Linked DNA regions of Homo sapiens. The protein of the gene in region 1 purifies or fractionates together with the protein of each later gene. This does not show direct contact. Each region holds a gene or a part of one and is shown on either strand. Other genes may lie near its edges.

Region 1 (3,727 bases):
TCCCAAAGTGCTGGGATTACAGGTATGAGCCACCACATCTGGCTTTAATTTTTGTATTTTTAGTAGAGGTGGGTTTTCACCATGTTGGCCAGGCTGGTCTCGAACTCCTGAACTCGAGTGATCTGCCAGTCTTGGCCTATCAAAGTGCTGGGATTACAGGTGTGAGCTACTATGCCTGGCCTCAATTAAATTCCCAAAGACCTTTCCAGGTCTATGACTTTAAATAAACCAGCTTCTTGGCCTAGTAAAATGTCTGGGGTTGGTAACAACAGATATGCTTCCTGTAAATAACACTTGTTGTGCACACAAATCTGCCTTCTCATTAGGCAATCATTATTTTATAAACATTTGACTTCAGAGGCTCTAATGCGAGCAATTCCAAGAAGTGAGTGAAGCCTCATTTTCTAGCTGTGCCAGGCCAAATCTGCCATGGCTCAATATACCCTTTCCCTCCAAATCAACCCAAAAAATGCATCTCATGCCCTCTGGATCCAGCCAGCTTGGTGCCACAGAAATGCTAATATTACTAATAAGCAAATGACAAAAGGTAAGCAAATGACAAAGGACCATTCTCTTCTTGTTTTCATCTGGGTTTTAGGAGACATTTTTAAAAATTTTTTTAAATTGAGAAGTAGTATGACACAGATCTTGGAGTTGGACTCTTAACTCCCCCAAGTCACTAGCTCTGTGACTCTGCAGAAGTTACTCAAGCTCTCTGATCAAGTTTCCTCAACTGTGAAATGGTGGTCACAGTACACAAACCATCAAGATTTCTTGTGAGGATTAGAGACAGTGAAGGAAAGTGGCTCAAAATTTGTATGGTGTAAATACGCGCTATAGAAATGATTATTCATACTATTTCTGGTGAGTTTCTCAATCTTGCTATTGTGAAGGAAAAGACTGAAAATTGCTCTCCGCCGCCCACACTGGCCATGCAGGGAAGGGCTCACGCTTCATGCTCTGGAGGCACAGTGGTTAGGAACACAGGTCCCATGGCTGGGCTGCCTGGGTTCTCACCCCACCTCTGCCATTTACCAGCGGTGAGGCTCAGCTTGCTCACCATATAGATGAGGGACAATGACAGCACTTAACCATAGTGGGAGTTTTGCAGCATTAAAGAAGAGAATTCGAGTCAAGTGCCTAGTACAGAGCCTGGCACATGGTAAGTCTACCATAAATGGTAACAATTCACTTGATTTTTATTTTATTTTAGTGATAGAGTTTTGCTCTTTTTGCCCAGGCTGGAGTGCAATAGCACAACCTGAGCTCACTGCAATCTCCACCTCCTGGGGTTCAAGCGATTCTCCTGCCTCAGCCTCCTAAGTAGCTGGGATTACAGGCAGGCACCACCACATCTGCTAATTTTGTATTTTTAGTCGAGATGGGGGTTTCACCATGTTGGTCAGGTTGGTCTTGAACTCCTGACCTCGGGCAATCTGCCTGCGTCAGCCTCCCAAAGTGCTGGGATTACAGGCGTGAGCCACCATGTCCGGCCTCTATAGTATACTTTTTTTTTTTTTTTTTGAGATGGAGTCTCACTCTGTCGCCCAGGCTGGAGTGCAGGGGCGCGATCTCCACTCACTGCAAGCTCCGCCTCCTGGGTTCACACCCTCCTGCACCAGCAATAATGCTGGTTATTAATTATTAACTAATTAATAATTAAAGGCCTCTTTGAGAAGGCCTCCACCTCCTAAGGATGTTTACAGTTGTTCTCTGCACATATGGCTAGCTGTCAGCAGCAGGCTGCAGGCGTTAGAAGCAGCTCTCAGCTACTCTTCTCTTCACTGTTTTCTCCATCTTGAAGGCTCCAAAGACAAGGGGGTAGGGGCAGGATTGCGGGGAGGAGAATCATTCTATTCCTACCCCTGGTGCTCCATTCATATGGATACACTTGTGTTTAGGAAATCATAACTGTTATTTACCAAGTTTAGTTGATCTTAGCCAAAAGGGCGAGAAGCAATAATTACTTAGTTCAAAAACGAATGGGAAGAATGACTGGGTTTGGAAAAATCTACAAAACAGCAAACAAACAAGTTTAAAACCATAGACTGAACACCTTAGAACTGAAGAGGACAGCAAAACCTCAGGAGTTCCCATAGGCACTGAGTCACTCTGAAGAGCTAAGGTTTCTGAATAAAAAGTTGGGTCTACAACTGGTATCTGGAGAGATGCCTCGGGAAGTCTGAATTCTGTGCCACGCTTGCGTTTGTGTATGGTACGTCCATGTTTCTAGAAGGCAGTCTATAGGGTTTATTAGGCTCTCAGAAGGGGCCAACTCCCAGAGGCGGTTAAGAGCTACTGCTGATCTACTGGGATAAGAGGGTGTTAATGTGCGACACACTTCTGCCTCTTGCAGTGGTTATAAGGAAGCAGGTGAGCCTCACCACGGTGACGCATCATTATTAACATCATCATCCATCTTCCGTGTCCTGGAACAGTCTCACCACCAGTAGCCACCGCCCTACCAGGGCAACACCTGGCCTGTAGGGAGGCTTTCCTTCACCTGGTGTTTTTTCTCCCTTTTCTAAGTTAAATGAGGTGCCAGCATTTACAAAAAAAAATCTGATATGACATAAAAATCTAGATTCCTGGCTTCTCTTGAAAAAAAACAAAAACAAAAACCCAGAGATCTGGCAATACTGGAATCGCATCACGCATGACAAGATCAGCTCGAGCAGAGGAACTCAGCAGCCGTGCCAGCGTCAGCTTGCTACACTCCTCTCCCACCTGTCCATTTCAGTTCTGTTACCTGCCTGACCCCCGAGCTTTCATCCCCTGTCCCATAATGTGATGCCTTCTTCCAAGTGTACTAATGGGTATATATGGTTGTTTCTAGGCAGCTTGGCTTTAGGCTAGTTAGCTTTTGGAGTTCTGTCAGCTTCGAGCTTTCCTCTCTCTCTCTCTTCTTCTTTTTTTTTTTTTTGGAGCTAGGTCTCACTCTGTTGCCCAGGCTGGAATGCAGTGGTGAGATCATGGCTCACTGTAGCCTCGACCTCCCCAGGCTCAGGTGATCCTCCTGCCTCAGCCTCCTATGTAGCCTGGACTACAGGTGTGCGCCACCACACCTGGCTAATTTTCTGCAGAGATGGGATTTTGCCATGTTGCCCAGGCTGATCTCGAACTCCTAAACTCAAGCAATCTGCCTACCGCGACCTCCCAAAATGCTGGGGTTACAGGTTTGAGTCACTGTGCCTGACCAGAGCTTTCCTCTCTCTTGATTTCACGTCAGGTCGTTACTTATCATTGTTGGCACAACTGACAGGAAACCAATATCATAATCTCTGAGGATCTGGACAATTCCAAGATATATAATCAACATGACCTTCTCTATGTTTTCCTGAAGACATGCCTAACTGACAAAGTATAATTATCTTTAAATCCCTAAAAGAAAAGGAAAGACTGGGAACACACACAATCTCCCAATGATGCATGTAACTAAAGAACTTGTTTCTGGCCTGGCGTGGTGGCTCACGCCTGTAATCCTAGCACTTTAGGAGGCTCTGTCTACCAAAATGGAGGTGGGCGGATCACCTGAGGTTAGGAATTCGAGACAAGCCTGGTCAACGTGGTGAAACTCCATCTCTACCAAAAATACAAAAATTAGCCGGGCATGGTGGTGCACGACTGTAATCCCAGCTACTCAGGAGGTTGAGGCAGGATAATCATTTGCACCCAGGACGTGGAGGATGCAGTGATACAAGATTGCACCACTGCACTCCAGCCTGGG
Region 2 (3,500 bases), on another chromosome or scaffold:
AACCCCGTCTCTACTAAAAATACAAAAATTAGTTGGGTGTGGTGGCACGTGCCTGTAATCCCCGGTACTCGGGAGGCAGAGGCAGGAGATTCGCTTGAACCCAGGAGGTGGAGGTTGCAGTGAGCCAATATCACGCCACTGTACTCAAGCCTGGGCGACAGAGCAAGACTCCGTATCAAAAAAATATATATATATATGCTTTTAAGGCAACAAAATAGTCAAAATCTCCACAAACAGAAATCTGATAAATTTTGGTATTAGGTGTATTTCTAAATAATACCAACAGCAACATTATCTGAATACACACTTCTCATTGCCACTGCGAGGTCCGACAGCTCTAACAGTTTTTTGGGTACGCTGTAGAAGCAGGATGTCTTCCTCTTGTTCCATTTCGTCACTATCCCATTGGCGACAACCCAGAGCTGAACAGATATACCTCACCTGAAAAGACAAAATTAGATACAAAATTAGTAAAAGGAGACAACTCATAATAGATCAGAGATATTAAAGGAATCTGTAATTTTTAAAAAGTGAAAGGAAACTAAGGAAATGTGTATGAAGTACTCAAGTCATAAGAAGCATCAGTTAGATTACCAACTCCTAAAATGAGTTATTTAGAACAATGACAGTACCAATGAATATTTATTTCAGGGAATGATTTTAAGGATTTACATAATTTTAGCCTTACTTTGGAGATTTCCATAGAATATACAAGAAGAAATGGATAGCTACTTGTGATAGCTTTTCTACAATATCATTAATAAAATTTCAGGTGAGTTAAAAAAAAAATCAACCTTAGAGTTTCTGTATAACAAAAGTGTTTGGTTTTTAAAAATTTGAAACTTTTCTGAGAGCTTTTTGTATTCAAAAGTAACTGCCTCAAATTTTCACTAAAGAAAAAAGGAAGAGTTAATATGATCCAAACTAAAATCCTCACGAAAAGCATACCTTCTACAATACCAGAATTATGTAGCAGCACATCAAATCGGAAAACCAGGTGATCGGGTTCAATCCTGTTGTTTACAGATGAGACTACCGAAGTAAACAGAGATTGAAGTGCTTTGCTCAAAAAACGGCCAGATAGGATGGCATGGCCTCCTCAACACAATGCAGATGCAGGTGGGTGGAGAAGGCAGAAAAGCATCTGCAAGAGCAAGAAAGTGCTATGGGCCTAACACTTAGATAAGGAATTGTTAAAGTTGAAAAATGCAAGAGTAAAAAGACCACGTTTCTATTCTTCCTTATTTTAGTCCAAGTCTGTATATAAACCGTTTACACGTCACAATGGTGTGATCTCAGCTCACTGCAACCTCCACCTCCCAGGTTCAAGTGATTCTCGTACCTCAGCCTCCTGACTAGCTGGGACTACAGGCGTGCGTGCGCCACCATCCCCAGCTAATTTTTTTATTTTTAGCAGAGATGGGGTTTCACCATGTTGGCCAGGCTGGTCTCGAACTCCTGGCCTCAAGTGATCCACCCACCTTGGCCTCCCAAAGTGGTAGGATTACAAGTGTGAGCCACCTTGCCTGGTTGAAAGGATGCTTTTAATTAGCTACTCTTGATAATGGATTTATAAGACCCAATCTTAGAAGCAGATTATATTATGATTATATCCTAAGAGCTAATGTTGGAGAAAGTCTAGATTATTAACAGCATGACTTTGTTGTCAGATAGATCTAAGTTAAATGTGACCCTGGAAGTTTCTGAACCTTTTAAAGTCTCAGTTTCTTCATCTGTAAAATGAGTATAAACTTTCCTCTTGGATCACCTTATTATAGGATCAAACCCTATAAATGAGTAGTATCAATTATTCTTATCATTAGGATTACTATTAATCTTTATAAGGTTCTTCATCTGTCAAAATGTAAAAAAAAAAAAAAAAAAACGAAAGTTACACTTAGGAAGACTGTGAAGATTGCAAAATAATGTATAAAAAAAAGAACCTGAGGCTGGGCATGGTGGCTCCTGCTTATAATCCCAGCACTTTGGGAGGCTGAAGTGGGCAGATCCCTTAAGGCCAGAAGCTGGAGACCAGCCTGGCAATACAGTAAAACCCTGTCTCTACTAAGAATACAAAAATTAGCCAAGCATGGTGGCATGTGCCTGTAATCCTAGCTACTCAGGAGGCTGAGGCACAAGAATCGCTTGAACCCACTTGAACCTGAGGGGGTGTGGAATGGGGTGGGGGTGGGGATTGCCATGAGCTGAGATCAGCCTGGGCAACAGAGTGAGACTCTGTCTCAAAAAAAAAAAAAAAAAAAAAAACACCTGAGACACAGTAGACCATATTTATGAATTCTCTTCCTCCTGCTATTCCTGGCTCTGCCATTTATTCTGTTATTAGTTTCCCCTTCCTACCTCACAGTTCTCTTATTAAAACAAATGACAACCTCAGGGGAAAATTACAATAAAACTCAACTAATAATAAGTGTAGTTTAATAAATTACTTTTTCTACCCTAATTTACTCTGATTTCCCCAAAGTAAATTCAGCATTTTCACTTACCTTTCCACTATATGCACTGAGTCCATATGTAGTCAGAGATTTTCCTCCAACCAAAACAACATCATCTCCAAATTTATAAGAAGATTCAAGAAGTGATTCAACTGTGAAAGGAACTGTTTCCATGCTTTCACGGTCTTGGTCCCACTGGAAGAGGGCTCCATCCAGGGAAGGAATGATCATCTTATTCCCAAATACCTAAAACAGAAGCTAACTTTTTAAAAGGGCCATAACATTAATTATTATTTTTTTCTTATTTCTCCCAGAAAAATAGAAGCATCATACCTTTAAAAGAATAATAGTAATTAAGAGCTGGAGTCTTGATCCTGATGTACTCCAGCCTCCTTCTGAGTAGCACATGAAGCAGTGCAGTCCATCAACCAAAAGTAATTTAAAAGAACTGCCAATCACTCCCAGGCCCTACACATAGTACTCTAGTAAGATTTTTCTCAAACTCAGTTTACCATGGGCCAAAAGGGTCCCATAATGGTAGGTGAGTTACCAAAAGAGAGTTTTATGATCAAGTGAGTTCAAGAAGAGGTTACTATAGGAGCTCTTATAGCAATTAGTATGTTAATGTGTAACATGATTATGTGTAATATGTGTAATATGAATATTTAATGTGTAAATAGATAATATATGCAGTATTTTCTAGGGCTATTTTTATCAAGGCCAATTACTGTCATAGACTCAGCTCCAAGGAACACAGGTTTAGAGATACTGATTCAAGTAGTGTCCCATCCCTTCTTTCATTTGCTTTCTCAAATCTGCAATGAGATAGAAGCCTAGTAAGTAAGCTTACTGGTTTTGTGTTCTCGGTTGCCCTCCCTTCTTTTAACAATGCTTATTAAGGGCTTACCTATGGCCTGGCACATTCTGATGGTTGGGATAGATTAGCGAGCAAAGCAAACAAATCACTGCCTTTGTGAAGGTTAAACTCTGGTGTCACGAGACAAACAACTTAATAAATAAGTAAATTATATGGTATGTTAGGTGATA
Region 3 (3,727 bases), on another chromosome or scaffold:
AAATGGGATTTTTAAAAAATTTCCTTTGATTCCTGTTCCAAGATGGCCAAATAGGAACAGCTCCAGTCTACAGCCCCCAGCGTGAGCAACGCACAAGACGGATGATTTCTGCATTTCCAACTGAGATACCGGCTTCATCTCACTGGGGCTTGTTGGACAGTGGGTGCAGCCCACCGAGCGTGAGCCGAAGCAGGGCGAGACATCGCCTCACCCGGGAAGCACAAGGGGTCAGGGAATTCCCTTTCCTAGCCAAGGGAAGCTGTGACAGATGGCACCTGGAAAATCGGATCACTCCCACCCTAATACTGCGCTTTTCCAACGGTCTTAGCAAACAGCACACCAGGAGATTATATCCCGCGCCTGGCTCAGAGGGTCCCACACCCACGGAGCCTCACTCATTGCTAGCACAGCAGTCTGAGATTGAACTGCAAGGTGGCAGCGAGGCTGGAGGAGAGGCGCCCGCCATTGCTGAGGCTTGAGTAGGTAAACAAAGCTGCCGGGAAGCTCGAACTGGGTGGAGCCCACCACAGCTCAAGGAGGCCTGCCTGCCTCTGTAGACTCCACCTCTGGGGGCAGGGCATAGCTGAACAAAAGGCAGCAGAAACCTCTGCAAACTTAAATGTCCCTGTCTGACAGCTTTGAAGAGAGTAGTGGTTCTCCCAGGACAGAGTTTGAGATCTGAGAACAGACAGACTGCCTCCTCAAGTGGGTCCCTGACCCCCAAGCAGCCTAACTGGGAGGTACCCCCCAGTAGAGGCAGACTGACACCTCACACGGCGGGTACCCCTCTGAGACAAAACCTCCAGAGGAACGATCAGAGAGCAACATTTGGTGTTCAGCAATATTCACTGTTCTGCAGCCTCCGCTGCTGATACCCAGGCAAACAGGGTCTGGAGTGGCCCTCCGACAAACTCCAACAGACCTGCAGCTGAGGGTCCTGACTGTTAGAAGGAAAACTAACAAACAGAAAGGACATCCACACAAAAACCCCATCTGTATGTCACCATCATCAAAGACCAAAGGTAGATAAAACCACAAAGATAGGGAAAAAAACAGCAGAAAAACTGAAAATTCTAAAAATCAGAGCGCCTCTCCTCCTCCAAAGGAACGCAGCTCCTCACCAGCAACAGAACAAAGGTAGACAGAGAATGACTTTGACGAGTTGAGAAAAGAAGGCTTCAGATGATCAAACTTCTCTGAGCTAAAGGAGGAAGTTTGAACCCAGCACAAAGAAGCTAAAAACCTTGAAAAAAAGATTAGATGAATGGCTAACTAGAATAACCAATGTAGACAAGTCCTTAAATGACCTGATGGAGCTGAAAACCATGGCACGAGAACTAAGTGACGAATGCACAAACTTCAGTAGCCGATTCGAACAACTGGAAGAAAGGGTATCCGTGATTGAAGACCAAATGAATGAAATGAAGCGAGAAGAGAAGTTTAGAGAAAAAAGAATAAAAAGAAACGAAAAAAGCCTCCAAGAAATATGGGACTATGTGAAAAGACCAAATCTACGTCTGATTGGTGTACCTGAAAGTGATGGGGAGAATGGAACCAAGTTGGAAAACACTCTGCAGGATATTAGCCAGGAGAACTTCCCCAACCTAGCAAGGCAGGCCAACATTCAAATTCAGGAAATACAGAGAACGCCACAAAGATACTCCTCGAGAAGAGCAACTCCGAGACACATAATTGTCAGATCACCAAAGTTGAAATGAAGGAAAAAATGTTAAGGGCAGCCAGAGAGAAAGGTCGGGTTACCCACAAAGGGAAGCCCATCAGACTAACAGCTGATCTCTCGGCAGAAACTCTACAAGCCAGAAGAGAGTGGGGGCCAATATCCAAAATTCTTAAAGAAAAGAATTTTCAACCCAGAATTTCATATCCAGCCAAACTAAGCTTCATAGGTGAAGGAAAAATAAAATCCTTTACAGACAAGCAAATGCTGAGAGATTTTGTCACCACCAGGCCTGCCTTACAAGAGCTCCTGAAGGAAGCACTAAACATGGAAAGGAACAACACATACCAGCCACTGGAAAAACATGCCAAATTGTAAAGACCATCAAGGCTAGGAAGAAACTGCATCAACTAACGAGCAAAATAACCAGCTAGCATCATAATGACAGGATCAAATTCACACATAACAGTATCAACCTTAAATGTAAATGGGCTAAATGCTCCAATTAAAAGACACAGACTGGCAAATTAGATAAAGAGTAAAGACCCATCAGTGTGCTGTATTCAGGAAATCCATCTCATGTGCAGAGACACACATAGGCTCAAAATAAAGGGATGCAGGAAGATCTACCAAGCAAATGGAAAACAAAAAAAGGCAGGGGTTGCAATCCTAGTCTCTGATAAAACAGACTTTAAACTAGCAAGGATCAAAAGAGACAAAGAAGGCCATTACATAATGGTAAAGGGATCAATTCAACAAGAAGAGCTAACTATCCTAAATATTTATGCACCCAATACAGGAGGACCCAGATTCATAAAGCAAGTCCTTAGAGACCTACAAAGAGACTTAGACTCCCATACAATAATAAAGGGAGACTTTAACACCCCACTGTCAACATTAGACAGATCAATGAGACAGAAAGTTAACAAGGATATCCAGGAATTGAACTCAGCTCTGCACCAAGCGGACCTAACAGACATCTACAGAACTCTCCACCCCAAATCAACAGAATATACATTCTTCTCAGCACCACATCGCACTTATTCCAAAATTGACCACATAGTTGGAAGTAAAGCACTCCTCAGCAAATGTAAAAGAACAGAAATTATAACAAACTGTCTCTCAGACCACAGTGAAATCAAATTAGAACTCAAGATTAAGAAACTCACTCAAAACTGCTCAGCTACATGGAGACTGAACAACCTGCTCCTGAATGACTACTGGGTACATAACGAAATGAATGCAGAAATAAACATGTTCTTTGAAACCAATGAGAACAAAGACACAACATACCAGAATCTCTGGGACACATTTAAAGCAGTGTGTAGAGGGAAATTTATAGCACTAAATGCCCACAAAAGGAAGCAGGAAAGATATAAAATTGACACCCTAACATCACAATTAAAAGAACTAGAGGAACAAGAGCAAACACATTCAAAAGCTAGCAGAAGGCAAGAAATAACTCAGAGCAGAACTGAACGAGATAGAGACACAAAAAACCCTTCAAGAAATCAATGAATCCAGGAGCTGGTTTTTTGAAAAGATCAACAAAATTGATAGACTGCTAGCAAGACTAATAAAGAAGAAAAGAGAGAAGAATCAAATAGACGCAATAAAAAATGATAAAAGGGGATATCACCACCGATCCCACAGAAATACAAACTACCATCAGAGAATACTACAAACACCTCTACACAAATAAACTAGAAAATCTAGAAGAAATGGATAAATTCCTTGACACATACACCCTCCCAAGACTAAACCAGGAAGAAGTTGAATCTCTGAATAGACCAATAACAGGCTCTGAAATTGAGGCAATAATTAATAGCTTACCAACCAAAAAAAGTCCAGGACCAGATGGATTCACAGCCGAATTCTACCAGAGGTACAAGGAGGAGCTGACACCATTCCTTCTGAAACTATTCCTATCAATAGAAAATGAGGGAATCCTCCCTAACTCATTTTATGAGGCCAGCATCATCCTGATACCTAAGCCTGGCAGAGACACAACACAAAAAGAGAATTTTAGACCAATATCCCTAATGAACA

The links.
Region 2: the proteins of BFAR (region 1) and EIF2AK3 purify together in Homo sapiens (affinity purification with mass spectrometry, with the first as the bait; one large-scale study listed by BioGRID). This does not show direct contact.
Region 3: the proteins of BFAR (region 1) and VAMP7 purify together in Homo sapiens (affinity purification with mass spectrometry, with the first as the bait; one large-scale study listed by BioGRID). This does not show direct contact.

The regions. Positions count from the first base shown.
Region 1 is NC_000016.10:14,639,348-14,643,074, reverse strand, and holds part of BFAR (bifunctional apoptosis regulator), read right to left. Parts: intron 1-3,727. UniProt on the Homo sapiens protein: Membrane-bound E3 ubiquitin ligase that plays a role in several processes including apoptosis regulation or reticulum endoplasmic stress. Has anti-apoptotic activity, both for apoptosis triggered via death-receptors and via mitochondrial factors.
Region 2 is NC_000002.12:88,592,965-88,596,464, forward strand, and holds part of EIF2AK3 (eukaryotic translation initiation factor 2-alpha kinase 3 isoform 1 precursor), read right to left. Parts: intron 2,700-3,500; coding exon 2,505-2,699; intron 1,095-2,504; exon of another isoform or gene 949-1,094; intron 442-948; coding exon 308-441; intron 1-307. UniProt on the Homo sapiens protein: Metabolic-stress sensing protein kinase that phosphorylates the alpha subunit of eukaryotic translation initiation factor 2 (EIF2S1/eIF-2-alpha) in response to various stress, such as unfolded protein response (UPR).
Region 3 is NC_000023.11:155,933,134-155,936,860, reverse strand, and holds part of VAMP7 (vesicle-associated membrane protein 7), read right to left. Parts: intron 1-3,727. UniProt on the Homo sapiens protein: Involved in the targeting and/or fusion of transport vesicles to their target membrane during transport of proteins from the early endosome to the lysosome. Required for heterotypic fusion of late endosomes with lysosomes and homotypic lysosomal fusion.